Homo sapiens: one gene and its partners. The protein of the gene in region 5 purifies or fractionates together with the protein of the main gene of each other region. This does not show direct contact. Each region holds a gene or a part of one and is shown on either strand. Other genes may lie near its edges.

What was found.
Region 1: the proteins of KRT2 (region 5) and MPHOSPH9 purify together in Homo sapiens (affinity purification with mass spectrometry; one large-scale study listed by BioGRID and IntAct). This does not show direct contact.
Region 2: the proteins of KRT2 (region 5) and AQP7 purify together in Homo sapiens (pull-down; one study listed by IntAct). This does not show direct contact.
Region 3: the proteins of KRT2 (region 5) and BLTP2 purify together in Homo sapiens (affinity purification with mass spectrometry; one large-scale study listed by BioGRID and IntAct). This does not show direct contact.
Region 4: the proteins of KRT2 (region 5) and CEP350 purify together in Homo sapiens (affinity purification with mass spectrometry; one large-scale study listed by BioGRID and IntAct). This does not show direct contact.
Region 6: the proteins of KRT2 (region 5) and ZNF318 purify together in Homo sapiens (affinity purification with mass spectrometry; one large-scale study listed by BioGRID and IntAct). This does not show direct contact.
Region 7: the proteins of KRT2 (region 5) and ZNF195 purify together in Homo sapiens (affinity purification with mass spectrometry; one large-scale study listed by BioGRID and IntAct). This does not show direct contact.

The regions. Positions count from the first base shown.
Region 1 is NC_000012.12:123,153,161-123,157,632, forward strand, and holds the end of MPHOSPH9 (M-phase phosphoprotein 9), read right to left. Parts: intron 4,458-4,472; coding exon of another isoform or gene 4,404-4,457; exon of another isoform or gene 3,755-4,403; intron 3,749-3,754; coding exon 3,647-3,748; 3' UTR 1,271-3,646; coding exon of another isoform or gene 1,265-1,270; 3' UTR 1,055-1,264; downstream 1-1,054. UniProt on the Homo sapiens protein: Negatively regulates cilia formation by recruiting the CP110-CEP97 complex (a negative regulator of ciliogenesis) at the distal end of the mother centriole in ciliary cells.
Region 2 is NC_000009.12:33,381,433-33,385,568, forward strand, and holds the end of AQP7 (aquaporin-7), read right to left. Parts: exon of another isoform or gene 3,859-4,136; coding exon 3,573-3,858; 3' UTR 1,759-3,572; downstream 1-1,758. UniProt on the Homo sapiens protein: Aquaglyceroporins form homotetrameric transmembrane channels, with each monomer independently mediating glycerol and water transport across the plasma membrane along their osmotic gradient. Could also be permeable to urea.
Region 3 is NC_000017.11:28,628,159-28,632,916, forward strand, and holds part of BLTP2 (bridge-like lipid transfer protein family member 2 isoform 1 precursor), read right to left. Parts: intron 4,082-4,758; coding exon 3,891-4,081; intron 3,762-3,890; coding exon 3,662-3,761; intron 3,524-3,661; coding exon 3,321-3,523; intron 402-3,320; coding exon 107-401; intron 1-106. UniProt on the Homo sapiens protein: Tube-forming lipid transport protein which binds to phosphatidylinositols and affects phosphatidylinositol-4,5-bisphosphate (PtdIns-4,5-P2) distribution.
Region 4 is NC_000001.11:179,960,761-179,965,518, reverse strand, and holds part of CEP350 (centrosome-associated protein 350), read right to left. Parts: intron 1-4,758. UniProt on the Homo sapiens protein: Plays an essential role in centriole growth by stabilizing a procentriolar seed composed of at least, SASS6 and CPAP. Required for anchoring microtubules to the centrosomes and for the integrity of the microtubule network.
Region 5 is NC_000012.12:52,645,757-52,649,591, reverse strand, and holds part of KRT2 (keratin, type II cytoskeletal 2 epidermal), read left to right. Parts: intron 1-489; coding exon 490-585; intron 586-1,254; coding exon 1,255-1,419; intron 1,420-1,736; coding exon 1,737-1,862; intron 1,863-2,631; coding exon 2,632-2,852; intron 2,853-3,835.
Region 6 is NC_000006.12:43,358,729-43,363,486, forward strand, and holds part of ZNF318 (zinc finger protein 318), read right to left. Parts: exon of another isoform or gene 4,687-4,758; intron 1-4,686.
Region 7 is NC_000011.10:3,359,205-3,362,822, reverse strand, and holds part of ZNF195 (zinc finger protein 195), read left to right. Parts: intron 1-220; coding exon of another isoform or gene 221-255; exon of another isoform or gene 256-277; intron 278-933; coding exon 934-1,080; intron 1,081-2,034; coding exon 2,035-2,103; intron 2,104-2,257; coding exon 2,258-3,618. UniProt on the Homo sapiens protein: May be involved in transcriptional regulation.

The DNA of each region.
Region 1 (4,472 bases), about 71 Mb from region 5:
AGGGGCAATTATTTGGAGGATACTGGCAATAATTTTTAGAAAAACAACCTATATTTATACCAAATAACCCCCAAGTCACCAATTAAGACCAAAGTGCTTTCTGAACTTACACGTGACAGGTTATCAAATTTGTTAAATTTTTGGTGGCTAAAAAACCAAACACACCAGAGGGATGCTTAATTTAAACTCCAAAAAAGCTCATTTTTTTGCAAAGCGTGAAGAGAACATCTTAGACCACCTAACAAATGTCAGTCCAAGGCAGTTTTTAGGTCAACTGCTTCGGACATAATCTACTTTTTTATTTCAGAAAGTATGCTACCTCAAGGCTGGGCGCAGTGGCTCACGCCTGTAATCCCAACACTATGGGAGGCCAAGGCAGGCAGATCATTTGGGGTCAGAAGTTCAAGACCAGGATGGCCAACATGGTGAGAACCCCGTCTCTACCGAAAATACAAAAATTAACCAGGCGTGGTATGCACCTGTAATCCCACCTACACGGGAGGCTGAGGCAGGAGAATAGCTTGAACCCAGGAGACAGGTTGCAGTGAGCCAGTATCACACCACTGCACTCCAGCCTGGGCAACAGAACTAGAGACTCCATCTCAAAAAAAAAAAAAAAAAAAAAAAAGGATGCTACCTCAAAAACCTACTTAACTCAATGAATCTGAAATATAATATTTCTTGAGCACTTACTAAGCACCAGGCACTTTACAAAATCTCCCTTAATGAAAGGAGTTTTCTTATTTCATCTTATAGCTGAGAAAGGCAGGCCTGTGCCAGGATGTGACCCAGGTCTCTCTGGCTCCAAGTCTCTCCTTTCTTGTCCCCTGAGCCCAGCTCTGCACAACCCTAGCACGGCCACTTTAGCTACATCTGTTGCTTCAGTTGGAAAAGTCCTTCAGTTGCAAAGACCATTTCCATACCTCAGGAGTAGCTCCTGCAAACAGAGGCTTAGCAAGGGAAAGGAAGGGGGCAGATCCAGGCATCAGGGGAGAGTTCACTTTCTATTTGCATTTTAAAAGGCACTTCCCAGAGGTGGCAGATTTGCTTAGGGTTTTTTTTTTTTTTTTCTTTTTAAACTATTAATACCTGCAGCAAAGCCCCAAGCCAACAACAAAAATAGTTTATACCCGGGGATAATAGCTGCTATTTAGAATTGCCATCTTTCCTGCTTTTAGGTGGAGTGTTTTTTCAGTTGAGTGTTCATAAGATAAGCATTACCGAAGAGAAAGACAGCAGAAAGAACTTTCCTTGGTATCCCTCTTCACAGCTATGAAGAAAAAAGAATACATTTTTTAGAAATAAGTGACTGATAGCTCCAATCTATTACACACTTCAAATATCAAAGCATATGCTGAGAGAGAGGCGCAGAAGATGTTTTGATGGAGGTTAACGCCTTTTTTGGAATAAGCCAATATAGGCTACTAAGAAGATAATTCCTTGGCAAGATAAAACTATCATCTCTTCTGAAATGGCATTTTTTAATTCTTAAGAATGTAGTAGATTTTACAATAAAAGTAGGGAACAAGGAAATATCCTAACAATTTTCAAGTTAGTTTTTAATGTCATATCCAGGAACACATTAAAGGTGGTCTTACTAGGTCTTGACACAAGCTGTACTGGAGCTTGATTAAAATGAACATTTTCTTTACCAAGACTAGATTTTTTTTTTCTAAAGGCTAGAAAACCAAGAATAAAGAATACCAAGAATAGGCCGGGTGTGGTGGCTCATGCCTGTAATCCCAGCACTTTGAGGGGCCAAGGCAGGCGGATCACATGAGTTCAGGAGTTTGAGACCAGCCTGGCCAATATGGTGAAACACCATCTCTACTAAAAAAAAAAAAAAGATATATACATACACACACACACATAGACATATACACACACACAAAATTAGCCGGGCGTGGTGGCAGATGCCTGTAATCCCAGCTACCCAGCAGGCTGAGGCAGGAGAATCGCTTGAACCCGGGAGGCAGAGGTTGCAGTGAGCTGAGATCATGCCATTGCACTCCAGCCTGGGCAACAAGGGCAAAACTCCATCTAAAAAAATAAATAAATAAAATAAAATAAAAATAAAAAACAAGAATAAAGGCACTTGATTCTAATTATAAGTAATTTTGATTAGCCTGAAGTCTTCAAAAGTTGCAGAGTAGGGAGCAAAGGTTCAACTGCACTGTCAGACAGGCCACCCTCCTTGCTGAGAAGGGAGCAGGGCTGTGGACCCCTGGCCTGGGGACCAGCCAGGTGAAGGGTGCTCAAAGGTCATTTGAGAGCCTGCTTGGAATAACTGGGATGGCTTGGTTCATTCTAACTACTTATTATTAAGAGCCACATAAAGAGGAAAAGCTCAAAAGCAAACCAAAATTTAAAACCTGAGCATGTTTAGTACGAATCCATTTTGAAAGTTTGGATGAGTCTGTTTATCAACATGTACCGAGCTGGAATATGTGGGGCACTGCGTTCTGATTGGCTACCAAAAACTAAGTAGTTACACAGCTCCAACTTAACCAGCAGTCCCAACACAAACCTGCCAATGCTCCTGGATCAGAGGAGAGACTCCTGCCCACGTGCTACTTCTGAGAGCCAGCGGCTACCACAGAGGCAGTGGGCTGGAGCCCTCTGCAAGGCCGAGGGGAAGGCACCAGGCTCCATCCGGACACACTCCCTGTCCATTAACAAATACAGTAGATTGTGATGATCTAAAGTCTAGTGTTCTTACAGCACCTACAGTGGAAATATTTTCCTTTTGGCCAGGGTGAAGGAGTGGAAAGGGGTGAACATATCCAGATGACAACTATGACGGACAGCTGAAGCCATGCACACTAAGAAAACCAGGCTGCCCTCTTAATCCCTCACGGGGTGGTGGCTTGTATTTCAAAGGGTTTATCTGTCCATTTATTGTCCAGGGTGGGACACAAGTTAATTCAGAACAATGGGCAGAGAGCTACTCTGAGAGCCCTCCAGAGAGGGCTCTCCAATTGTTTAACTTTTTTAGAAAAGATAAAATTAGAGAATTACAATCTCTCTTTTTTCTCTTACAGACAATAAAGTTTAAAGAAAATGAGTTATATTCATGTAGTTTTCAAAGCTTTCCAAGAGTCCATTATTACTATTCTGATATTCACTCTAAGACACGTTTCAAATACGAATTGCATTATCATTTTTTAAAAACCTCAACACAACTGAAATCCAAGGTACACTGTAATTGTTTATGTATTCAGCATGTACTAGTCTATCATTATGGAAGCTATTAAGCTTTATTTTTTAAAAACTGAATTGTATTTACAATGTAGAACAAGTCTATAAAATTGATGTGCAGTTAATTGTAAAAGGATAACACTATTTGTTTAGAAACAAGCTGCTTCCTCTGTTTATATTTCCTTATTCTTGATATAAATTGGAGACAGATACTATTTAAAAATAATGCTTTTTAAATAGTAAAATATACAAGAGATTCCTGAGCATAACAAAAATATCTTGAAAATATGTGGCCATTTGAAGTATAAAATAGCAAGTGTAAGAATAGCATGATTGTAAAACTACTGTTTGAAGGCTTATAAACAGTACAAAATAGTTTGCCTTTTCTGACTGCATAATTATACATTAGTGCAAACAAAAATGTCTCAAAATTTAATGGCTACAAATCTCAAAGATTTGCAGAGGTGCGCAAAACATGGAATTTCTTTAGCGTCATGCGAACTGAACCCAGTTCTCGATTAATCCTTTCCAAACGATCTTCCAAGGCTTCCTAGGTGAAAACAATGGGAAAAGTTTAATTAGAATTCTATACCAAGTTCTATAATCACCACCAAACTGACCTTTCTTTTAGCAAAAGAGCAAGTATAAACACTAAAATTACAATTATTTTGCTTTCTACACGAAACATCTTATGATTTCTTTTAAACTGGACAATATGAATTAGCTTTTCAACTATTCCAAATAACTGCTGTACTTTAAAATATTCTCAATATGTTTGACACATTGAGTATATGGAAATTCTAGTAATAGCAATACAACCAACTGGAAGAGGATAATTCTTTGGCTCTGCTGAAGTGAGAACAGTACAAGAGGAGCCTAGGAGGTGCTTCACACATTTCACCAGAAGAAATGGACACATTTGATCAGTGCTGCATCCCACACATACATAGATCAAATAACTTTCTTCTCACCAAAATTTCTAAGTTAAAAAGGAAAAAAAAAAAACACTGAAGGATACTTTTCTTAAAAAAAAAAATAGATTTCACAATGAATTAACAATTGCTATTTTAAAATAAACAATATTACTGTTAAATAATACCTGGACTATATATCATTATACATACTTCTGTGTTTTTGTTGAGACAGGGTCTTGCTCTGTCACCCAAAGCTGAACTGCAATGGCATGATCATAGCTTACTGCAGCCTCAAACTCCTGGACTCAAGCAATCCTTCCACCTTAGCCTCTCGAGTATCTGAAACTACAGGCAGGCACC
Region 2 (4,136 bases), on a different chromosome or scaffold from region 5:
CCTCTCTAAGCTGTAACTGAGGCCTTGGGACCATGCTGCTCTGGAATGCCAACAATGAGAAAGGCTCACAGGGCCACTGAGCGTGAGAGGGGGGAAGGGGCTTGTAGAAGGTTACCGAGGAAGGCTACTGTACAGCTGGGGACTTCCAGCTGTGGGCCCTTCCCTGGTCACTCCCAGCCCTGGTTCCCCTGGCTCGGCTCCTCCCACCGTGGGACGTCAGATACAGTCATCCTCCCTGGATTCCCTGTGATCTCACCAGGCTCCCACCTGTTACCCCTCCCCTCCCCCTGGCGCCCCCCACTCCGCCCCCCAACTCCGCCGTCCTCACACTACAGCTATTCCTTCTTTGTGTTTTTAGATATACCTACATACTGGCCAGGCGGTGGAGCTCACGCCTGTAATCCTAACAATTTAGGAGGCGGAAGCGGGTGGATCACCTGAGGTCAAGAGTTTGAGACCAGCCTGGCCAACATGGCGAAACCTGGTCTCTACTAAAAATACAAAAATTAGCCAGGCGTGGTGGCGCATGCCTGTAATCCCAGCTACTTGAAAGGCTGAGGAAGGAGAATTGCTTGAACCCAGGAGGCAGAGGTTTCAGTGAGCCGAGATCACACCACTGGCACTCCAGCCTGCATGACGGGAGAGAGACTCCATAAAAAAAAAAAATATATATATATATATATATATATATAATATATATATCTCATACAAACAATATGTATCACATTTATATGTTATCAAGCACGATCATGTAATAAACCCGCAAATGTCCAAACCCAAAACTAGAAAATTATTAATAGTTTGTACTACTCCTGTGTTCCTCTCCATCTGCCTGTAGGAATTATTTCTTTTTCTAAAATAGTTTTCTTACATACATATATATAGCAAAGAATGTATTTTTGCTTATTTTTCAGCTACAAGACTGGTGTCACACTGTATATAGTCTACTGTATTACTTTGTTGTTGTTTTTTTTGAGGCACAGTCTCACTCTGTCACCCAAGCTGGAGTGCGGTGGCACAATCTCCATTCACTGCAACCTCCGCCTCCCGTGTTCAAGGGATTCTCTCCTGCCTCAGCCTTTTGAGTAGCTGGGATTACAGGTGCCCAACTACACCAGGCTCTTTTTTTTTTTTTTTTTTTGAGACCGAGTCTAGCTCTGTCGCCAGGCTGGAATGCAGTGATGCAATCTTGGCTCACTGCAACCTCCGCCTCCCAGGTTCAAGCAGTTCTCCCGCCTCAACCTCCCGAGTAGCTGGGACTACAGGTGTGTGCCACAACACCCAGATAATTTTTGTATTTTTAGTAGAGACAGGGTTTCACCATGTTGGCCAGGATGGTCTCGATCTCTTGACCTCGTGATCCACCCGCCTTGGCCTCCCAAAGTGCTGGGATTACAGGCGTGAACCACCACGCCCGGCTACTGTATTACCTTTTATGCCTCCAGAATTTTTCTGTGTTGTTGCAGGTGTCTGTTGTGCCTTAATTTTTGCTATTGTAGAGGGTTCTATTATGTGCAATTGCGCAGCAGTGTATGTATCTGTTCCCCTGTGGATGGACATTTGGGTTGTGTCCAGTGTCTCTTGACCACCTACCTTGTGCCATGCCCCCAACCCTCCTGTCATTACTCCACAATCTAGCTACATCCACAAAGCCATGACTTCACGAAACCCTGTCTTCCGCTTCTGAGCTCCAGACCATATAAAAGGCATAACTGTGTTTATTGAGCACTTACTCTGAGCCAGAAATGATTCTCAACATTTTACATGTGGTAGCGCATTTAATATTCACAGCAACACAAATGGGAAGTAATATTCTTATCGCCATTTTACAAATAAGAAGACCAAGGCCCAGAAGGGTTGAATATCTTGCTCAAGATCACACACATTTTGCCACCCCCCATTCCAAGTCCCATAGGCAACTCAGACTCAGCATGTCCATGATGTAACTTATCTTCCTCTCCAAACCATTTCCTCACTTGTGCCCTACTCTCAGTGGGGACATCTCCAATCCCCAGGCCCAAGCTGGAAACCGGAAGCCATTTCTGACTCCTCCCTCTCCCTCACCCACTCCATCCAAATGGAACCCAAGTCCTGTACATTGTACTTCTCCGGTATTGATCAATCCCCGCTCTCGTCTCCACGCCCACGGTGCTGACCCATTGTTAGGTGCCCGGCTGCTGCTCCTGGGTCATCACTTTCGCAGGCCCATCTCCACCATTTCCAGCATCCTACACACTGCGGCTCAGGTGTGCTTTCTAAACCTCACCTCACCGTGTCCCCACCTCCAGAACGAAGCCCAGCCTCCTCTGCCCATCCCCTCAAACTGTAAAGTGCAGCTCCCACCCCCAAAAAGGACACCCCCCACCACCATACCCTGCTCTGTCTCCTCCTCTGGGAAGCCTCCTGGCCTTGGCCCAGAGGCTGGATGTGAGCTCCCCTACCCCGAGCCCCACAGCCTCCAAGCCTCCCACTCTGCACTCACCTTCTTCCATATAATTACCTGTCCCCCATTAAACTGCAACCCTCAAAGGCAGAGCCCAGCGCATCCACTGCGCATCCCCAGTGTCCAGGCAGGGCCTGCACACAGTAGATGCACAATAATTATTGAAAGGCAAAATGCATGAGCAAGGACAGGAACCATGGGTGATGCTGCCTTCTGAGCCCCAGGCAACAGAGTGATTCCTGCCTGGCCCCAGGGTCAGTGGATCCTGGCCCCTCACCCCACCCAACCTCTGCACCTGCTTCCCTGGAGCCCTTGGAGCCCTATGAGGCCTCTTCCTGTGTCTTCATGTGGTCGAAGGATTTCCCTCTTTGCATCTTCCTTTCCTATTCCTTCATGTGGGAGCACTCTGGCACCAGGAAGAAGAAAGAGGAGCCCAACCCCTTAACAGCCTTCAATCTATAACAAGCATTCTCAAGGGAATTAAAACTGATTCTTAAAAGGGGAGGTGAAAAAAAAATCTTACTCTTTTTTATGTATAAAGCACAGAACATATACAGAACATAAACAGATATATAGTACATCTGTGGTATTAAAATTTCATGTGATTAAGAAAAAAAAAATCTAGAAGAATACTAGGGAAGGAACTAATGAAAAAAAGGCTAAAAAATTCTGATCTACATTCTTGGGCCTTGCCTTGTCTGGTCCAAGAACCGGCCAGAACTCAGGGAAGGGAAGAACCAGGGGAGAGTCTAGAGTCCAATCTCAGGATCCCCTCAAAGTATTTCCAAAGCCGGCCCCCAACCAGTCAGCTACGGTCTGTTCCCCAAAACCACCCTTCCTTCCCCCGTGCCTGAAAATCCCTCATTCTGTCGTTCTTTCATCTCACCCTGTTCCTACTGAGGGCGCAGGTCATCTCTTCCCCATTCTCCCCCTGGGGCACCCCAGTTCCCAGGGCATGAAAGACTTGAGGTGCCTCACCTCTACACCTTGGGCTAAGACATAGCCCTGGAGCTCCTGTAAGAACCCAGGAGGGAAGCCCAACCACAGGAGGCCCCCAGGAAGTGGGGGTACTGCTGTCGGACAAGCCTTGCTTTATTGGGGAATGGATGGGATCACAAATAATCTCTGCTTAGAAGTGCTCTAGGGCCATGGATTCATGTAAGGGTGGGGCAGGGTGGACTGAAGATCTGTTGGCAGGGCTCACAGAGACGGGGGTGAGGGGAGAGATCGTGGGTTCATGAGATCCCATCTTGGGCAATACGGTTATCCCGTGGTCTTCATACGCCACAGAATCCTCCAATTTCAGGGGCTCCCGTGGGATGGTGGAGCCAATGAAGACCAGGTAGATGATGCCACCTAGATAGGCACCCAGAAGTGGTGCCACCACTGGCACCCACCACCAGTTCTCCCCATTGCTGCAGGCAAGAGGCAGAGGCCTGCTGAGGGGGCTGATGCCCAGGACAGCACCCTCATCCACCTCGGGCCAAGACAGGTTGAGCAGAGGAGTCATCCCCAGGCTACCCCAGGAAACACCCCCAACCCAGGGCCCTGGTCAGCCTCAGCCCAATTCAGGGACAGCGTTGACACTCAGTGCAGGTGCAGGATCTGTATCTGTACTGGCCTGGGGAAATGTTGGGACTCACTCCTGCTCCCCAGGCTACCTGGGGGCTCAGCAGGACCCTCCTGTGCTGCC
Region 3 (4,758 bases), on a different chromosome or scaffold from region 5:
TTTACCTAGATAGAAGCACCATGACTCAGTCCTTTTAAAACTCCTGTCCAAGCCCATATCCATGTTCTAAACCCAAACCCAAAAAGTCTCATCTCCCCGAGCTTACCTCCTGATGACCCCTTATCAGGTTGTCCACTGAAGCTGGGAGTGTTAACACGAGGTGGGGCTGAGGCACTAGTTGGGACACCCCGCTTTGGCTTTTTGGCTGGCATCTGTGGATCAATCTTTAACCCCTTCAGGGCCTCAGTAGAAAGATTACGTTTGAGTACAGCTGCCTTTTTGTACCCATCATATAACCCAAAGGCAATGTCTCGATTGGTAGTTGTCCAGGAAATCCGTAAATCTACTAAGTGCAGCTGATGTGTATGAAAGGTAGGATCCCCATCACGAGCAGAGAGCTCCTAAGAAACAGGAAAAGGACTTCAGGGTAGCATGGAAATTGCCCCCAGTGCCACAGAGGCAGTGATAAAAGTTTGTTGAATAAGAAACCTGTTGGCCAGATGCCATGGCTCATGCCCGTAATCCCAGCACTTTGGGAGGCCGAAGTGGGCAAATCACGAGATCAGGAGTTTGGGACCAGCCTGGCCAACCTGGTGAAACCCCATCTCTACTAAAAATACAAAAAATTAGCTGGGCATGGTGGCTGGCACTGGTAATCCCAGCTACTCAGGAAGCTGAGGCAGGAGAATCGCTTGAACCTGGCAGGTGGAGGTTGCAGTGAGCCGAGATCACACCACTGCACTCTAGCCCAGGCGACAGAGAGAGACGCAGTCTCAAAAAAAAAAAAAAATTCACTGGGCGTGGTGGGGAGACAGACCCTGGAGAAGAAAAACTAAGTGGTCTTGGCTTTTATATTATATTACATTCAAACTATACCTACTGTATTTTATTCTTTATCAAAAAACGTTTTCAGAGTTCCTCTAAAATTTTTTTTTTAAGAAATGGAGTCTATTTTGTCCAGACTGGTCTTGAACTCCTGGCTTCAAGCAATCTTCCTGCCTTAGTCTCCCAAGTAGCTGGGACTACGGGCACAAGCCACTGTGCTGGCCCATTTTATTTTTTAAATATATTTATTTATTTTTATTTATTTATTTGAGACAGAATCTGGTTCTGTCTCCCAGGCTGAAGTGCAGTGGTGTGATTTTTTTTTGAGACAGAGTCTCACTCCATCACCCACGCTGGAGTGCAGTGGCATGATCTTGGCTAACTGCAACCTCTGCCTCCCAGGTTCAAGCGATTCTCATGCTTCAGTCTCCAAGTACCTGGGGATTACAGGTATGTGCTACCACACCTGGCTAATTTATTTATTTTTTATTTATTTATTTATTTATTTTTTGGAAACAGAGTCTCACTCTTGTCGTCCAGGCTGAAGGCAATGGTGCGATCTCAGCTGGCTGCAACCTCCACTTCCCGGGTTCAAGCGATTCTCCTGCCTCAGCCTCCCGAGTAGCTCGGATTACAGGCACCTGCCACCACGCCCAGCAAATTTTTGTATTTTTTAGTAAAGATGGGGTTTCACCATATTGGCCAGGCTGGTCTCAAACTCCTGACCTCAAATGATCCGCCCACCTTGGCATCCCAAAGTGCTGGGATTACAGTCGTGAGCCACTATACCTGGCCTAATTTTTGTATTTTTAGTAGAGACAGGGTTTCACCATGTTGGCCAGTCTGGTCTCAAACTCCTGACCTCGACTGATCCATCTGCCTCAGCCTCCCAAAGTGTAGGGATTACAGGTGTGAGCCACTGCACCCAGCCTTAATGGTGCAATCCTGGCTCACTACAACCTCTGCCTCTTGGGCTCAAGCCATCCTCCTACCTCAGCCTCCTAAATAGCTAGGACTACAGGTGCATGCCACCATGCCTGGCTAATTTTTTTGTATTTTTTGTAGAAACACGGTTTCACCATGTTGCCCAGGCTGGTCTGGAACTCTTGAGCTCAAGGGATCCACCCACCCTGGCCTCCCAGAGTGCTGGGATTACAGGCATGAGCCATCACACTTTGCCTATTTATTTCTGAGATGGGGTCTCACTCTGTCACCCAGGCTGGAGAGCAGTGATGCGGTCATGGCTCACTGCAGCCTCGATTTCCCAGACTCCAGCCATCTTCCCACCTCAGCCTCCCGAGTAGCTGGGACCACAGGCACATGCCACCACACCCAGATAATTTTTTGTATTTTTGGTAGAGACAGGGTTTCCTCATGTTGCCCAGACTGGTCTCAAACTCCTGAGCTCAAGCAATCCACCTGCTTCAGCCTCCCAAAGTGTTGGGATTACAGGCATGAGCCACCTGAGCCCAGCCCCCACTGTTTTTTTTTTTTTTTTTTTTTTTTTGTATTTTGGAGACAGCATCTTGCTCTGTCACCCAGCTTGGAGCGCACTGGTGTGACCTCGGCTCTCTGCAACCTCCACCTCCCGGGTTCAAGAGATTCTCCTGCCTCAACCTCCCAAGTAGCTGGAACTACGGTCATGTACCACCATTCCCAGCTAATTCTTTTGTATTTTTAGTAGAGATGGGGGTTTCACCATGTTGGTCAGGCTAGTCTTGAACTCCTGACTTCAAATGATCCATCCGCCTTGGCCTCCCAAAGTGCTGGGATTACAGGCATGAGCCACCGCACCCAGCCCTCCCCCACTGTATTTTAAATGACTTGAGAATTTCAACTTAAAATCCTTCCCTAATTGGGGGAAAGGCAGTACCAATTTTTTTTTCAGTGTTAGGAAAAAATTTTACTCTATTTCCTAAAGAGTAACATACTATTTTTAGGAGAGAAAGAAAAAGTATTTTCAAAAAGAAGGATGCTGATACAGCTAAACCAAATGAGTTTGTCATAAAGTAATGACATACATGCTTGGAATATATGAGAAACCTTACCAGGGACTTAATCTGCAACCTACTCCTATGGACTTTACTGTGTTCCCCCCAAATTCATATGTTGAAGTCCTAACCCCCAATGTAACAGTATGTGGAGATGGGCCTTTGGGAGGTAATGACATAAGGTCACGAGGGTGGGGCACTCATGACAGAATTAGTGCTTTTACAATAAGAGAAACCAGAGCACTCGTGCACACTTGTGCTCTCTCTCCCTCTCTGCCATGTGAGGACAGACACAAGGCAGCCATCTGCAAGCCAGGAAGACAGCCCTCACCAGAACCCAACCATGCGGGCACCGTGATCTTGGACTTCCCAGTAGCCAAAACTCATAAATAAATTTTTGTTGTATAAACCTCCCAGTCTCTGGTATTTTGTTATGGCAGCCCAAGTAGGCTGAGATACCTACTAATATAAATAAGGTAATAAAGAAAGTGTGTCAGGGAGTACCTCCTCAGCTGTGCGATTGCTATGCCGTTGGTAGGTGAGGGAGGACAAGCTCAGCAGGTGGGTCTTTGTTACCAAGGGATCAAGACAGTGATCAGCATTCTCTTCAGTGGGTGAGGCCATCAGGTGAACGGTCACCTGACTTAGGTCACTCACCATCTGGGTAACACTCCAATCAGAGATAAGGCGCCGCATCACTGTGCCTGCTGAGAAAAAGAGGCACACAGAGACCATGCTGACCAGTTCAGAGGATAGTGTAAGACAGAGATGGAGGAGGGGAATGGAACTGAGAAGGGAAAAACAAGGAACAGGATAGGAGAAATGAAAGGAGTCTTTCATTTTACCTTGAGGTATAAGCCGCTGAGTCCCCCGAGTGAAGACATGGCCCTGACTGCACTCAATCTGGATGCCCCGTTGCTGGGCAAATGAGGCCCAATAATGTACCTGGCAACAAGAGAGCATAACATTAACAAAGGATGGCATGAGAGGGATGATTAAGGGACTCAATATGAGAAACAAGAAAACTAGAAGCAGAATAAAGTGAAGATGTCAGCAGGGACATCAGTGCCTTACCTGCAGCTGGGGAAAGAGGGCTGTATAGGAAAGTTGCTTGTAGTGCTGACCAAGTTTCTTCTTGCTGGGTTTCAGGTTATTGAAGAGCTTTCCCCTGCAGATAGGCCTTGTGACACTTGTCCAAGTTGCCCAGAAGTTTTGCATCCAGCGCAGGGTACTACTATATAGCAGAATTCGGGGCTGGGATATTGCTGCAAAGAGAAAGACAGACATTTCCTAGTTATGGATGAAACACAGAGGTAAAGCTAAATCCTTCCCTTGCTGCAGGTTGTAGAGGTTTAAAAATCCAAAATCCAAACAGCACCTAGCCTCACATTCAGCATCCCCAACTCCCTCTTCTTTCAAGGATCTAAGCTCTCTGCTTTCCCCTACTGCTATGGTCTAAATGTTTGCATCTCCCCAAAATTCATGCTGAAATACCCCTAAGGTAATGATGTTAAGAGGTGGGCCTCTGGGAGGTCACTAGATCATGACGGTGGAGCCTTCATGAATAGGATTAGTGCCCTTTTAAAAGTGGTCCAAGGGAGCTCACTGACTCCTTCCACCATATTAGGACACAGCAAAAAGGCACCATCTATGAGGAATGGGCCCTCACTGACACTGAATCTATCAGCTCTTTTTGATCTTCGACTTTCAAGCCTCCAGAACTGTGAGAGATAAACGCTTGTTGTTTATAAGCTACCAAACTTGTGGTATTACTGTTATAGCAGCCAAAAAGGACTAAGACACCAACCCTTTCCCCTGCCAAAAAACAAAAAAAAAGGTCCTAACCTAGATTCTCCCTTGCCCTTCTCCCCTCCCCTCCCCTCCCCAGAGGGTCAAGCTAAAGTCCCCAGCATCCATGCCCGTCCTCCCAAGCCCTTCCTCC
Region 4 (4,758 bases), on a different chromosome or scaffold from region 5:
CTATAAAGGAGATTTCCATTTGTAAATGTATGTGCCTATATACATTAGAAACAGAACGTCAAAGCATAAAACTAACAAAGAAACTCTGGACTTAGACACTTGACCAAACGGACCTAACAGACTTCTACAGAATACTGTACCCAAAAATCACAGAATATACACTCTCATCTGCACATGGAACATTCTCTAAGATGGACCACAAGCTCAGTCATAAAGCAAGTCTCAATACATTCTTAAAAAATGAAATCATGTCAAGCATATTATCAGACTACAGTAGAATAAAATTAGAAATCAATACCAAAAGGAACTCTCAAAACCACAAATACATGGAAACTAAACAACTTGCTCCTAACTAACTTGGTTAAACAACAAATTAAGGCAGAAATAAAAAAATTCTTTGAAACAAATGAAAATAGAGAAACAAACATACCAAAACCTCTGGGATACAGCAAAAGCAATGTTAAGGAGAAAGTTTACAGCACTAAATGCCTACATCAAAAAGACAGTAAGATATCAAATTGACAACTTAAAGTTGAACTTAAAGGAACCAGAAAAAGAACAAACTAAACCCAAAGCTAGCAGAAAAAAAAGAAGTAACTAAGATCAGAGCAGAACTAAATTAATTGAGACCAAAACAAACAAACAAACAAACAACAACAAAAAAAACATACAAAGGATCAACAGAACAAAGTTAGTTCTTTGAAGGGATAAGCAAGATAGATAAACCTCTAAGTAAATTAAAAAAAAAAAAAGTGAGAAGATCCTAAGAAGCATAATCAGAAATGACAAAGGTGACAGAACTCATACTACAAAAATACAAAAGAGCCTCAGAGACTACTATGAACATCTTTATGTGCACAAACTAGAAAAACCAGAGGAAATGGATAAATTCTTGGAAACACACAACCTCCCAAGATTGAACAAGGAAGAAACTGAAATCCTGAACAGATCATAACAATTTACAAAATTGAATCAGTTATAAAAACAAATCTACAAACCAAAAAAAGACCAGGATCAGATGCATTCACAGCCAAATTATACCAGACAAACAAAGAAGAGCTGGTATCAATCTTACTGAAACTACTCCAAAAAATCAAGATCACACTGAATGGACAAAAGTTAGAAGCATCCCCTCTATGAACTGAAAAAAGACAAGGATGTGCACTCTTACGACTCCTATTCAACATAATACTTTCCATCCTACCCATAGGAATCAGGCAGAAAATTAAAATTTAAAAAAAGGCATCCATATAGGAAAAGAGAAACTCAAATTATCTCTGTTCAACCCTAAGGAGTCCTTCAAAAAACTCCTAGACCTAAGAAAAAGACTTCAGTAAAGTTTCAGGATGCAAAATCAACTTACAACAGTCAGTGGCATTTCTATATGCCAATAATGTTCAAGCTGAGAACCAAATCAAAAATGCAATCCCATCTATAATAGCCACATGAAAAATAAAATACCCAGGAATAAATTTAACCAGGGAGGTGAAAGATTTCTACAAGGAGAACTACAAAACACTGATGAAGGAAATAACAGATGACACAAACAAATGGAAAAACATTCCATGCTCATGGATTGGAAGAATCAAAATTTAAATGACCATACTGCCCAAAACAATCCAAAAATTCTATTCCCATCAAATTAGCAACATCATTTTTCACAAATTAGAAAAAACAATTCTAAAATTCATATGGAACCAAAAAAGAGCCTGAATAGCCAAGCAAAAAGAACACAGCAGGAGGCATCACATTACCCAACTTCAAACTATACTACAAGGATATCCTAACCAAAACAGCATGTTACCAATACAAAAACAGACATCTGTATCAATGTAACAGAATAGAGAACCCAGAAATAAAGCCATACACCTATAACCAGTTGATCTTGAACAAAGCTGACAAAAGCAAAAATGGGGAAAGGACACCTATTCAATAAACAGTGCTAAAAAGAAAAAAAAACCCAAAAAACACACAAAAAAACTGGCTAGCATGTGCAGAAGAATGAAACTGGACCCCCTACCTTTCACCACATACAAAAATTAACTCAAGACGTATTAAAGACTTAAACATAAAACCTCAAACTATAAAGATCCTATTTTAAAAAACCTAGGAAAAACTCTTCTGCACATGGGCCTAGGCAAAGAATTTATGACTAAAACCTCAAAGGCAAATGCAACAAAACAAAAATTCATAAACAAGATTTAATTAAACTAAAAAGCTTCTACATAGCAAAAGAATCAACAAAGTAAAGAGGTAACCTAAAGAATGGGAAAAAAATATTTGCAAACTGTACATCTGACAAAGGACTAGGATCCAGAATCTACAAGGAATCTCAAACAAATGAACAAGAAAAAAAAAATAACTCCATTAAAAAGTGAGCAATGGACATAAACGGATACTTCTCAAAAGAAGACATACAAGTGGCCAACAAACATATGAAAAAAATGCTCAGAATCACTAATCATCAATAAAATACAAATTAAAACCACACTGATACCATCTCACACCAGTCAGAATTGCTATTATTAAAGAGTTAAAAAATAACAGATGACAAGGATGCAGAGAAAAGGGAGTATCATACACTGCTGGTGGGAATGTAAATTAGTTCAACCCCTGTGGAAAAGAGTAGAGGGATTTCTCAAAGAACTTAGAACTATCATTAGACCCAGCATTCCCACTACTGGGTATCTATCCAAAGGAAAAGAAATCATTCTATCAAAAAGACACTGCACTAGTATGTTTATCACAGCACTATTCACAACAGCAAAGTCATTGAATCAAACTAAGTACCTATCAACAGTAGATCAGATAGGCCGGGAGCAGTGGCTCATGCCTGTAATCCCAGCACTTTGGGAGGCCGAGGTGGGCAGATCATGAGGTCAGGAGTTTGAGACCAGCCTGACCAACATAGTGAAACTCCATCTCTACTAAAAATACAAAAATCAGCCAGGCATGGTGGCATGTGCCTGTAATCCCAGCTACTCAGGAGGCTGAGGCAGGAGAATTGCTTGGACCCGGGAGGCGGAAGTTGCAGTGAGCCAAGATCACGTCACTGCGCTCCAGCGTGAGCAACAGAGCGAGACTCTGCCTCAAAAACAAAACAAAACAAACAAACAAACAAAAAACAGTAGATTAGATAAAGAAAATGTGGTACATATACACCGTGGAATACTACGTAGCCATAAAAATGAATGAAATCATGTCCTTTGGAGCAACATGGATGCAGCTGGAGGTCATTATCCTAAGCAAATTAATGCAGAAACAGAAAATCAAATATCACACCTTCTCTCACTTGTAAGTGGGGTCTAAACAATAGGTAAATATAGACATAAAGATGAAAATAAGATACTGTGGATTCCAAAAGTGGGAAAGGGCCGGGCGTGGTGGCTCACGCCTGTAATACCAGTACCTTGGGAGGCCAAGGTGGGCAGACCACTTGAGCTCACAAGTTTGAGACCAGCCTGGCCAACATGGTGAAACCCCATCTCTCCTAAAAATACAAAAAATTAGCCGGGCATGGTGGCTCGTACCTGTAGTCCAAGCTACTCGGGAGGCTGAGGCAGGAGAATCGCTTAAACCTGGGAGGCAGAAGTTGCAATGAGCCTAGATCAAGCCACTGCACTCCAGCCTGGGTGACAGAGACTCCATCTCAAAAAAAAAGGTGGGAAGTGACAGGTAAGGGGTAAAGGTTGAAAAACAACCTACTGGGTACTATGTTCGCTATTTCAGTGATAGGTTCAACAGAAGCCCAAACCTCAGCATGATGCAATATACCCATGTAACGAACCTGCACGTGTATCCCCCACAACCCAAATCTAAAATAAAAGCTAAAGCGTAGTCTAACTTCATTTATAACTAACCAGAGAAACAAACCGTATTAAAGCTGGACGTTAGGAGTCAACCAGCATCATATTATCAAGTGTGTAGTCATGACCCGTTAGTAGATTAAAACAAAACAAAACAATATCGTGGATTGGAGCTAGCATTTTTTTAATGGAACTAAATAGGATTGATTTGCAAATATCAAGTGTATTGAAGGTAGTGAGCGCTTTATTTTATTTTATTTTATTTTTGAGACACAGTCTCTCTGTCGCCCTGGCTGGAGTGCAGTGACGCGATCTCGGCTCACTGCAACCTACACCTCCCAGGTTCAAGTGATTCTCCTGCCTTAGCCTACTGAGTAACTGGGATTACAGGTGCGCGCCACCACGCCGAGCTAATTTTTTTGTATTTTTAGTAGAGATGGTGTTTCACCACGTTGGCCAGGTTGGTCTTGAACTCCTGACCTCAAATGATCTGCCTACCTCGGCCTTCCAAAGTGCTGGCATTATAGGCATGAGCCACCGCGCCTGGCCATGAGGCTGTTTAAAGTAAAACTTTGAAAAGTGAAACTTTTGATTCATTATATGTATACACATACACGTATAACACACATCTATTCTTTTTATTTAAAAAAATAAAAAATAAAGATAAATGTAAAAAATCAACCTTTGGGAGCACAGAACATGGAAAATATATATAGGTGTCCTGGTCAAAAGTTCAAGAGGTTCCTAAACTTTCTCAGTTCACAGACCCCTCAGTATGCCAGTTATTTTTTTCATGGAACCCCTAGGCCAAAAAAATACCTAACAGTTCCATTTACTAAGTAGTTCAGTCCACAACCTAAAAAGTATTTATAGCCTACCAACTTAGTAGCAGATCGAAAAATAAATATGTATAAATTGAAATAAATATTTTTATTACTAAATTACCACAACT
Region 5 (3,835 bases):
CCCTTAGAATGCCTGCTTAAAGTTGCTGTTGGTTGTGCTGACAAAGGTTTGAGGTTGTAGGCCAAAAGCAAGGGTTCTCCTGCTGGGTCCTGCAGGGCCTTTGGTGTATATTCTGGGGAAATTTCGGAGAGGTGAGATGGACAGACGGGATGAGAGAGCTGAGGACTGTGGAAACCCACAAAGAACATCGTATCCTGTTGTAGAAACACACAGTGTCTCAAGCAGGAGAGAGGGGCTGGTTGGCAAAGCTTGGTCATCTCGAGGCTCTGATGGTCCTGAGGGCTGTGAGCCATGGACGTAGGCATGAAGTCCCTGGCAGAGGTGTATGGTAAACTGCACGACAAAAGAAGTCCCATGGGGACAGGGATCAGGTTGGGGAGCCTGGGATTTTAGAGAGGAGCCAGCAGGGACTGAGTAGAGGGGAGTGGCAGAGAGAGGAAGAGGCCTGTACAGGGAACCATACACCAGAGGCCTCAACCTTTCTTGCAGGACGTGGACAATGCCTACATGATAAAGGTGGAGTTGCAGTCCAAGGTGGACCTGCTGAACCAGGAAATTGAGTTTCTGAAAGTTCTCTATGATGCGGTAAGGAGGCTGCTCCGGGACAGTCCCTTACTTCCCACCCTTCTCACCAAATGAAAGTCCTTTCTGCTTGGTGAAAAAGTGGCAGAAGTGGGGTTTATGGACCAGCTGACTTCAATCTGCCATCATTCCAGGCCACTGGGGGGGCTTTCATAGCATAGGTCTTGTGGGTGAGGAATTTTCTCCTCCGATGTTATGGGAATAAGGTTCAGGAAACACCAGGACAGCTTCCCCTCCCTCCATTCCCCAGATGTCCATTTCCCCTGGGGAAGAGACAAGCCCTGTGCCCATTCCTGTGCCTACTGTACTTCAGAGGTCAAAATGCATTTGTCTCCTATCCCCCTCCCCAACCCAAGGGTGCACAGATGATTTCTGAAACAGGAAGTCCATTTAAGGTATTTGCCATGGACAAGCTTCTGTCTGGGGGCACTTACCATAACTGGCTTAAGTGCTGAATGTTAACTAGGAGGCTCAGAAATACAGGTGCCTCTCACTACAATTCTCAGGACAACCTTGGGAGAGGCCCAGGAGTAGACGGTTACATGATTTTCATCCCACCTAGTGTATGCTTAGTCTGAGGGTCTGCGTTTCCCTTATGCTGGGAGACAGAGGCCTCCTGTCTGCCTGTAGCTATGGCAGGATGTCATGACCAGACCTTCCTGTGTGTTGTAGGAGATATCCCAGATACATCAGAGTGTCACTGACACCAACGTCATCCTCTCCATGGACAACAGCCGCAACCTGGACTTGGATAGCATCATCGCCGAGGTCAAGGCCCAGTATGAGGAGATCGCCCAGAGGAGCAAGGAAGAAGCGGAGGCCCTGTACCACAGCAAGGCAAGTAGAGGGAATGTAGGAAGAGCCACAGCTCCCTGCCATGAGCTGGGTTGCACCCCCAGCTGGAAAGTGTACAGTAAGGTTATTGGTTTTTTGTTTAATGGTAGTTGGGCACCATTCCCAAGAAAGGATGTTGAGAATGGCACCAAGTCCTTTTGGGCATGTGAGACAGTCCCTACCTCTCATGAATGCAGCCATGACATTTAGCTGGGTTGACCCTCCCTGGACCAGTAACCAGCTCTCCTTCACTCCAGTCAGTCTGGAATGTGAGCCAGGCTGGAACTTCCTTGCAAACTGTCCTCTTCTCCCCATATCAGTATGAGGAGCTCCAGGTGACTGTCGGGAGACATGGAGACAGCCTGAAAGAGATCAAGATAGAGATCAGCGAGCTGAACCGCGTGATCCAGAGGCTGCAGGGGGAGATCGCACATGTGAAGAAGCAGGTGAGGCCCAGCCCTGTCCAGCGAGGGGCGGGAGGTTGTCTCTGGGTGTGCGTGAGAGTGTGGTTGTGTGTGAGTGTGCATGTGAGAGATGAGAGACACTGAGATATTGCACTCTAGCATGTATCGATCCCAAATTCCCCAGCTTAACATAATTTATGGCTTATTATAACAATTCTTAGAGTGCTCTAATAGACATTCCAAAGTAAGGATTATCGAAGGGAAAGAATTGTGCTCACTTGTTTATATGAGGAAAAGGGAGTCATAACAAATAGAGCAAACGTTAGTTTGATTGATTTGCTGCAGATTGCCGATGGAGCTTCCCGTTTGTGCTCAGCACAGGCCCTGAGCACCAGCCGACTGGTTTCATAGAGGGGCAGTGAGTATTGAGGGCAGCTGGCCTGGGGCTGGACGTTAGCTTTGGAATAGAAAAGGTAGAGGCAGAGAGTGGATTCCATCAGCAGCAGAAGCTTTGCCAAGCAGACCATTTCAAATGTTTTCATTTCCATCTGTAAAATGGGATCATGATTCAGGCCCTGTGATGTGAGGATCAAAGGGCACTATGGGGAAAGCCAAAGGGTGTCATCAACGGTGACATGGGAAGAAGATGTGCCAGAGACAGCGGCAAGTCTTAGCACAGTTGTTTGCGACTAAACTCCAGAGGGGACCTAACACTCCCAGGGCCAGTGGTTCTGGCTTCCTGCACTTCGAACACCTCTGCTCTCTGTCCGCCTCCGTCAGGCAGAATCCATTCTCTGTCCTTCTGTCATAGTGTAAGAATGTGCAAGATGCCATCGCAGATGCCGAGCAGCGTGGGGAGCATGCCCTCAAGGATGCCAGGAACAAGTTGAATGACCTGGAGGAGGCCCTGCAGCAGGCCAAGGAGGACTTGGCGCGGCTGCTGCGTGACTACCAGGAGCTGATGAACGTGAAGCTGGCCCTAGATGTGGAGATCGCCACCTACCGCAAACTGCTGGAGGGCGAGGAGTGCAGGTGAGGGCACTGGGAAGGGAGAAGGGGACCCTGGCCCTTCCTCTCATCTCTCCCAGAGCCAGGGCTGGAGGCAAAGACAGGGAAAGCAGAGAATGGGGCAGGCCCTCCTGACAACTGAGAACTGACATTCTCTGTGTTCCCCAAGCAGAAACTCAGGACATAAAGCATGATTGGAGAGTTACACATTTATCAACATGAAATGATGCATAAGGCACATTAAATTAAACTAAGCAGTAAGTTAAACATCCTGGTCTTTTCTGAAAGAGAAAACAAAATCATGGGAAAACAGGTTAGTCCTAGACAGTCTGAAACTTTGGTCTCTAGGTCCATAGGGTGAGTGGCTTCTGTGCCCTCCACCGGGTGACCCAGAATGGGGGAGATGATGTCTCGGAATGTGCTGACTGGTGGGGACGTGCTGACCGGAGCAGGTGCCAGCCCCAGTTCTTTGCAGGTTTCTGGAGTGACAAATGGAACCATTTGCTAACTTTCAAAGAGGCACCCTTTGCTTCCTCTGTAGTCTGAGACCTTTGTCCGTATTATCAGCATCTTGGGTGACTTAATCTGGCTGAAGCAATTGGAAGGGGAAAAGCTACCCCAGGCCATCAGCAAGCCAGCATGACAAACAGGGAGTGGCTTTCTTCAGGAGGTTGCTCTGTCCCTGTCTAGAGGCAATGCCTCCTATGCCCAGCTTGTAAGAGGAAGTGGGAAAGTTTTCAGTTGAAGCTGAAGAGGGTGGGAAGAAGAGAGGAATGGGGAGGCTCTACAGAGTCACAGTTCTTTCTGAACTGAATGTTCACAGGCAGCCTCATTGTATAATTTCTGATGTGGCATGGATTCTGAATAACAGACTCTCCAAGATGGATTTAAATACACAAATGGGTTGCAAAGTAGGAAGTGAATTTGCTTTTCAGTGACCTTGGATCAACCACGCAACTGTTCATTTTTTATCAGAGCAAAAATTGAGAGGGATTGACATGCAAGGT
Region 6 (4,758 bases), on a different chromosome or scaffold from region 5:
ATTTTTTTAGTAGAGATGGGGTTTCACATGTTGGCCAGGCTGGTCTCGAACTCCTGATCTCAGGTGATCTGCCCGCCTCAGCCTCCCAAACTGCTGGGATTACAGGCGTGAGCCTCCACACGTGGCTCAGATAAATGGTTTTAAAGCTGTGTTCCAGAGGTTGTAAAGAGTGCTCAGGAGCTACCAAAAGAAAGGAGGTACTAGAAAAGCAGAACCAGCAGGGCTCTTGACCTTCTATCCCAGTTAAATCACACTAATTCCAACTTTAAGTCTGTATATTAAGGTTCTAATAATTCAATTGGGAAAAAAAAGTATCACTATATGGTAACTTTTAAAAAAACTACTGATTTATCTAATTAGCATGATTTTCTCATAAGATTTAGAAGGTTCTCCAATGCTTTGCCTTGATGGTTCACATATTAAAACCCATAAAGCTCTCTCACAGCCTGTTTTGTCACCCTCTTTGCCTTCTCTGGATATCTACAAGCACTCTGCTAATCTTGGGCTTAGAAAAGAGAAAGTGATGGTTTGGTTCACCATATATTTTTATTTCATTAAATACAAAGGTCTCAGACCTTTGTGGCATGAGGTAAAAATCCAGGATGGGACAGCTATTCTTTTAGCTGAGAATTCTATACCACACCCAATAATGCTAACCTTCTCAGGGGCTATGGCTATGACACAAAACTAAAGTTTCTGATTTAAATCACAGATAGAAATAAAGATCCTCTAGCACTTTATGTATGAAAACTTCTAAGTACTCTGAATAAAAAATAAAAGTTCTTACATGTCACTCACATTCCAGAGTGAATTATCATCTAGAGGATGGTAACTATTAGTGTCTTCTACAGTTTCTAGTAGCTACTTTTGTTGTGAGTTTCTAGAAATGACTTTTCCTTAGTTTTTTTAGTAGTTGCTTTCCTATCTCTGAGACTATGCCAGCAGAATCTCAAAACATTGCCTTTTCTTATTCACCAGCCTGCCTTTGATCAAAGTTGTAGACCTAGGAATAAATTTATGAAAGGTTATCAAGGACAAACTTTATTTACCTTCTCTAACAAGAATGCCACCTGTGGGAATCCAGGTTTCTGTTACCCACCTTCTTCCTAAGAATTTGGGAAATTTTGAGGTTTCAATGCAGTATGAAATAGGAATAAATGGGAATAAACCAAGGATGATTTCTGAAATCAAACTGAGGTAAAAATTTTTCTCTATAGGTCTGTCAGCCATAAACACACCTATTTCCAGAGAGGAATGTTCATGAGTTGAGTCACTCCATTGCCAAAACACCATCTACCATACAAAAAGTCTCTGACCATATTAGTATAGGGAGAAAAAACATAGGCTCCATGAGGAGTGGCAAGTTCATTCACACTCCCACATTCAGCTCCCCACCAGAACTATTACATGTCACCATGAAACGGCATACTAGCCCAAGGTCTAAACCAGTACTAACTATCAAGAAGCTACAAATGAGATGGCTCTCAAAAAGCTGTAGTCCAGACTTGGAATCTCCAGTAGAGACAGAAAAAAGGCATAAAAACAGTTTTCTTAAAAAAGCTATCACATACATATAGGCAGAAATCAGGTTGCTTATTAGAAGCTCATGTCCTCCTTCCCCAGGACTCCAAAAGGATATGAGAAGAGAACTGGCTGTAGTAAGAACCCTAAAAAGGGTACAATCTCCTATACCCTGAAAGAGTCCAGCGATGGATACTCCCGGAAAGCCTTGGTTAAGTTCAACTGTTTTCTAAAATAAAGTCTATCTATTTAAAAAAACTGATTGTTGGAGTTAGGTAATAAGGACATGGGGTTTCACTGTACTATTCTACATTTTTGTGTTTACAAATCTCTGTTAAACAAGTTTTTAAAAAATGTATGTATGTCCATATAAAAACTTTTATACCAATGTTCAGAGCAGCATTAATCATAATTGCCAAAAAGTGAAAAGAATCAAAATGTTATCCATTCATTCACCACTGATGAATGGATAAACAAAACATGGTATATCCATACAATAAAATATTATCAGCAATAAAAAGGAATGCTACAAACACGGATGAACCTTAAAAAAAAATATGCTAAGTGAAAGAAGCCAGTCACAAAAGACCACATATTATATGATTCTATTTATATGAAATGTCCAGAACGGGCAAATCTATAGAGACAGAAAGTAGATTAGTGATTGCCTATGGCTGGGGGTAGGGTGGAGGGAGTAATGGCTAAAGGAACAGAGCTTCTTTCTGGTGTAATAAAAATGTTCTAAAATTGATTGTAGTGAGGGATGCACAACTCTGAATATGCGAAAAATCACTGAACTGTACACTTCAAATGGGTGAATTATATAGTATACAAATTACATCTCGATAAAGCTGTTAAAAATGTATACATATTTTAAAAGGTCCTTCAGAGCCTAAACTCTCCATTCTTTTCTGTTGATGAGTCCCAAAAATGCCCCAAGAAAGCTGTTTGCTTCTATTCCCTAAAGAAAATCAGAGGGAAAAAAATCCCACTCCTTCAATCTGTCAGAATAAGGAGAAGAAATTAGGCGATAAGCTGGGCACAATGGCTCACACCTGTAATCTTAGCACTTGGAGAGGCCAGGGCAGAAGGATTGCTTGGGGTCAGGAGACTAGCCTGGACAACACAGATAGATAGAAACCCAATTTCTAAAAATTTATTTTTTAATTCACCAGGTGTGGCAGTGCAGCCCATAGTCCTAGCTACTCTTTAGACTGAGCTGGGAGGACCACTTGAGCCCAGGAGTTTGAGGTTACAGTGAACTATGATCACGCCACTGCACTCCAGGCTGGGCAACAGAGCAAGACATTGTCTTTTAAAAAGTTAATAATTTTTTTTAAATAAATAGCTCCATGAATGGAACATTAAATGTGCAAATTACTTTGATGAACAGGAGAAATCAACCTAACATCCACAAGTCTTTAGAAGCCAAGTGTTTTAGAATTTTTCACATTACCTTTCATGTTCCCTTTTGAGTAGAATTACAGTCCTACATACAGGGCTGCTAAGGTGAAGACACTAAAACCCAACTTGGCTATCATCCAAACCTGATATAAAACTTAACAGATTCAATAAAGGAAGAGAAAGACTACTAGAGTCTCAGAAAAAAAATAAACAAACATCTGGCCAGGCATGGTGGCTCATGCCTGCAATCCCATCACTTTGGGAGGCTGAGGCAGGAGGGTCACTTGAGCTCAGGAGTTTGAAACCAGCCTAGGCAACACAGTGAGAACCCCATCTCTACAAAAATTTGAAAAATTAGCTGGGCGTCGGGTGGTGTGTGCCTGTATTCCTAGCTACTTGGGAGGCTGAGGCAGGAGAATCACTTGAACCCAGGAGTTAGAGGCTACACTAAGCTATGATCGTGCCACTGCACTCCAGCCTGGGTGACAAGAGTGAGACCCTGTCTCTTAAAAATAAATTTAAAAGGGGCCAGGCGCGGTGGCTCACACCTGTAATCCCAGCACTTTGGGAGGCCAAGGTGGACGGATCACGAGGTCAGTTCGAGACCAGCCTGGCCAAAGAAACCGCATCTCTACTAAAAATACAAAAAATTAGCCTGGCATGGTAGTCCGCACCTGTAATCCCAGCTACTCAGGAGGCTGAGGCAGGAGAATTGCTAGAACCTGGGAGGCGGAGGTTGCAGTGAGCCGAGATTGCAGCATTGCACTCCAGCCAGGCAACAGTGCAAGACTCTGTCTCAAAAAATAAATAAATAAAAATAAAAAAATAAATGAATTTTTAAAAAATAAACATCTACATACACGTCTTTTTTTTTTTTTTTTTTTTTTTGAGACAGAGTCTTGTTCTGTGCAGTGGCACAATCTGGGCTCACTGCAAACTCTGCCTCCCAGGTTCAAGCTTCTCCTGCCTCAGCCTCTGGAGTAGCTAAGACTACAGGCATGCGCCACCACTGGGTAATTTTTGTATTTTTGGTAGAGACAGGATCTCATCATGTTGGCCAGGATGGTCTCGAACTCCTGACCTCAAGTGATTGGCCCACCTCAGCCTCCCAAAGTGCTGGGATTACAGGTATGAGCCACTGCGCCAGGCCCAAACATCTACATACAAAGGATATAAATGGCCTGTATCATTGGTTGAAGACTAGACTCACTGTCAGGAGACAACCTGAGTATGCCAATGGTCCTGTGGCCTGGTTTTAGTGGACAGTAATTATCCACACAAACCATACTGAACAAAAGGGAAAGAAGAGAAATGTGTAGGGGGCAACAGTATTTTTTAAATGGCCTTGTATCTTTGTTTAGAACCTTAATCTCACTTTCTCTAAAGTAGACCTGTGCCTCTGAAACACATGATTCTACAAAGAAGACTGCTGCCCCAAACTCCTTAAGAGGAAAAATTTTAATTTTTGTAATTTAAAAATATAATTAGTTCTATCTGAAGCACATGTGCATAACAAAGTTTATGCAAAGGGGAAGTGACATCCTAGGCCTAAGAAGAACTGCTGAAGCTAACTCAAAACCTCAGCAAAGAATGAAGACAATCACACTATGTACCACCTACCCAGACTACCTACTCAATAATTTCCCCAAACAGAAGCAGCCAGAAGAGCAAGGGCTATTGCCTCAATTAAGTGATACAGTCACATATCTTGAAGCCCTTTAGAAGCTTCAATGTTATATGACATAAGACTATTTTGCCTTGCTTCTTCTCTGAGAAAACACCAAATGGCAGATGATGTCGGTGGAGGGGGTGGGGCGGGGGCAGAGGCCCCGG
Region 7 (3,618 bases), on a different chromosome or scaffold from region 5:
TTTGATCTTAGTTTGGTTTTAAATTATTTAGCATATGCCTTTTGATTGAGTAGTTTAGTTCCTAAATAAGCAATTTACTGAAATGAAAAGATGTACTTTAGCCATTGTATTTTTTTTACTTGATTCTTGTAGCTTTTTCTTTCTCTCTTTCCTTTTTGTGTCTTGTACTTTGTATAATAAGCTTTGACTCTTTTTAAATTTTCTTTTGTGTGTCTTATAGGTATTTTCTTTGTGGTTACCATGGAAATTATATAAAACATCTTAAAGTTACAACAAGGTATTTTACACTGGTAAATACTTAACTTTAGTTGTATACAAAAATTCTTTCTTATTAAATCTGCCCTCAACTTTGTTACTGATATCCCTAAATCATTTAATGTTGTATATCCATTAACAGTTATTTATGATTATTTTTCTACTTTCATCTTTCAAATTTTAGATAATAATTAAAAGTGATTTCTGCACCATCATTATAGTACCACAGAATTTTATTTTTCTGTATATGCGTATCTTTTCCATATATTTATTTTGATATGATTATATATTATTTTATAGCATCGCATTATTTTCAGTGGAAAGGACTCCTTTTACCATTTCTTGTTTGACATGTGTAGTGGTAATGTAGCCCTTGGTTATGTTAGAAAGCCTTTATTTTTTATGATTTTGTAGGACACTGGTTATATTATTCTTGCTTGGAAGTTTTGTGTTCAGCAATTAGACTATCTCATCCAATTCCCTTCTTGCTTCAGGTTGTACTTTTTTTGAGACAGGGATTTATTCTGTCACTCAGGCTGGAAGTGCAGTGGTGTGATCGTGGCTCACTGCGGCCTCCACTTCCCAGGTTCAGGTGATTCTCCCACTCCAGCCTTCTGAGTAGTTGGGACTACAAGTGTGCAACAGCATACACAGCTAATTTTTTTGTATTTTCTGTAGAGATGGGATTTCACCATGCTACTCAGGCTTGTCTTGAACTCCTGGGCTCAAGCGATCTGCCTGCCTCAGCCTCCCAAAGTGCTGGGATTACAGGTGTGAACCACCGTGCCCAGCCAGGCCTCAATGTTTCTGTGGACAAATTCACTGGTAATCTCCTAAGAGCATGTACCTTGCTTTTCACTTGCTGCTTTCAGGATTCTTTTCTCCTTTGACTTTGGAAACTGTGGTTATAATGTGTCTTATGTCCCTTTTTGTTTATACTAGTTGATGTGTTGAGCTTCTTGATTTTTTTGTATTTTTTTCTTACTTTTGAGAATTTCTCAGTAATTATTTCCTTTCATACCTCAGTTTCTCAGTCTGTTTTTCATACTTCATGTCTTTTTATTGGTATCCTTATTTTCCTAATTTTACTTAGTTTGCTGTTTTGCCATTTTTACTCATTGAGCATTATTCAAATGGTAATTTTATTTTCTTCAGTTAATTTATGCATCTCCATCATTTTAGGGTTGATTTCTGAACTTTTTTTATTTCTTTGATTATGCCATGTGACCCTAATACTTTGTACATGTCATCTTTGACTGAGATTCAGGCATTAACAACAAGCCTCCTGCCACAACCTTTATAATGTGCCTTTCTCCTGGGGTCATCTAAAACAAATAGGCCCAGATTCTAGAGGCCTCTTAAGCCTGTTCTGGGATGTGTCTTGTGTGGAATTGTGTGTGTATTTTTCATTTAAAGAGGGTTTCTCAGCTTTCTTTGTAGTGCCCTGGAATCACACAATACACTTGTCGCCTGGTGCTGCTGCTGCAGCCTTCCTACCGCTGTCATGGGTATTTCCTTTCGGTCTCAGCAGACCCAGCCTGTCACTCAGAGTACCACCATTTCTCTCAGCACTCCGTGTCACAGGGGGCAGAAACCAATCTTTGCCAAAGCTTCAAAAGGCCAAAAGTAAAAACACTTGTGCCAGTATTTGCTTTCTCTTTTGAAGGAGAAGCCAAGAGCTGAGGGTGTACTCTTAAAGGCATGATGCTATACTGCGGAGGAGCGGGGGCTGCAGTGGGTAAACGTAACAGACTGTTTTTCTTCTTATCTGGCTCCTAGCACTGTGCTCACCTGGGGTGCTGCAAACTGTGAAATGGTTTTTAGAGTTCAGATGCATCTTCTCACTAGGTATTGTTACATTTATATGTTTATACAGAAATTAGGGCCTGTGGTATTTTTTATGCCATTTTGCTAATGTACCCAGTATTATTTTATAGATTAGATTCATAAAGTGTATTCATCTGTGTCTAGTAAGTCGGATAACTTTTTTTTTTTTTTTCAGCTATGTCTTCTCATTTTACCCAAGACCTTCTGCCAGAGCAGGGCATACAAGATGCATTCCCAAAAAGAATACTGAGAGGATATGGAAATTGTGGCCTTGATAATTTATATTTAAGGAAAGACTGGGAAAGTTTAGATGAGTGTAAGTTGCAAAAAGATTATAATGGACTTAACCAATGTTCATCAACTACCCATAGCAAAATCTTTCAATATAATAAATATGTTAAAATCTTTGATAACTTTTCAAATTTACATAGACGTAATATAAGTAATACTGGAGAGAAACCTTTCAAATGTCAAGAATGTGGCAAATCCTTTCAAATGCTCTCATTCCTAACTGAACATCAGAAAATTCACACTGGAAAAAAATTCCAAAAATGTGGAGAATGTGGCAAAACCTTTATCCAGTGCTCACACTTTACTGAACCTGAGAACATTGACACTGGAGAGAAACCTTACAAGTGTCAAGAATGTAACAACGTCATTAAAACTTGCTCAGTCCTTACTAAAAATAGAATTTATGCCGGAGGGGAACATTACAGATGTGAAGAATTTGGCAAAGTATTTAACCAGTGCTCCCACCTTACTGAACATGAGCATGGTACTGAGGAAAAACCCTGCAAATATGAAGAGTGCAGCAGTGTCTTTATCTCTTGCTCAAGCCTTTCTAATCAACAGATGATTCTTGCTGGAGAGAAGCTCTCCAAATGTGAAACATGGTACAAAGGTTTTAACCACAGCCCAAATCCTTCCAAACACCAGAGAAATGAGATTGGAGGGAAACCTTTCAAATGTGAGGAATGTGACAGCATCTTCAAGTGGTTCTCAGACCTTACTAAACATAAGAGAATTCACACTGGTGAGAAACCATACAAATGTGACGAATGTGGGAAAGCCTATACACAGTCCTCACACCTCAGTGAACACAGGAGGATTCACACCGGAGAGAAACCCTACCAATGTGAAGAATGTGGGAAGGTCTTCAGAACTTGCTCAAGCCTTTCTAACCATAAGAGAACTCATTCTGAAGAAAAACCCTACACGTGTGAAGAATGTGGCAACATCTTTAAGCAGTTATCAGACCTCACTAAGCATAAGAAAACCCATACTGGAGAGAAGCCCTACAAATGTGACGAATGTGGAAAAAACTTTACCCAGTCCTCCAACCTTATTGTACATAAGAGAATTCATACTGGAGAGAAACCCTACAAGTGTGAAGAATGTGGCAGAGTCTTCATGTGGTTCTCAGACATTACCAAACATAAGAAAACCCATACTGGAGAGAAACCCTACAAATGTGACGAATGTGGAAAAAACTTTACCCAGTCCTCAAACCTTATTGTACATAAGAGAATTCATACT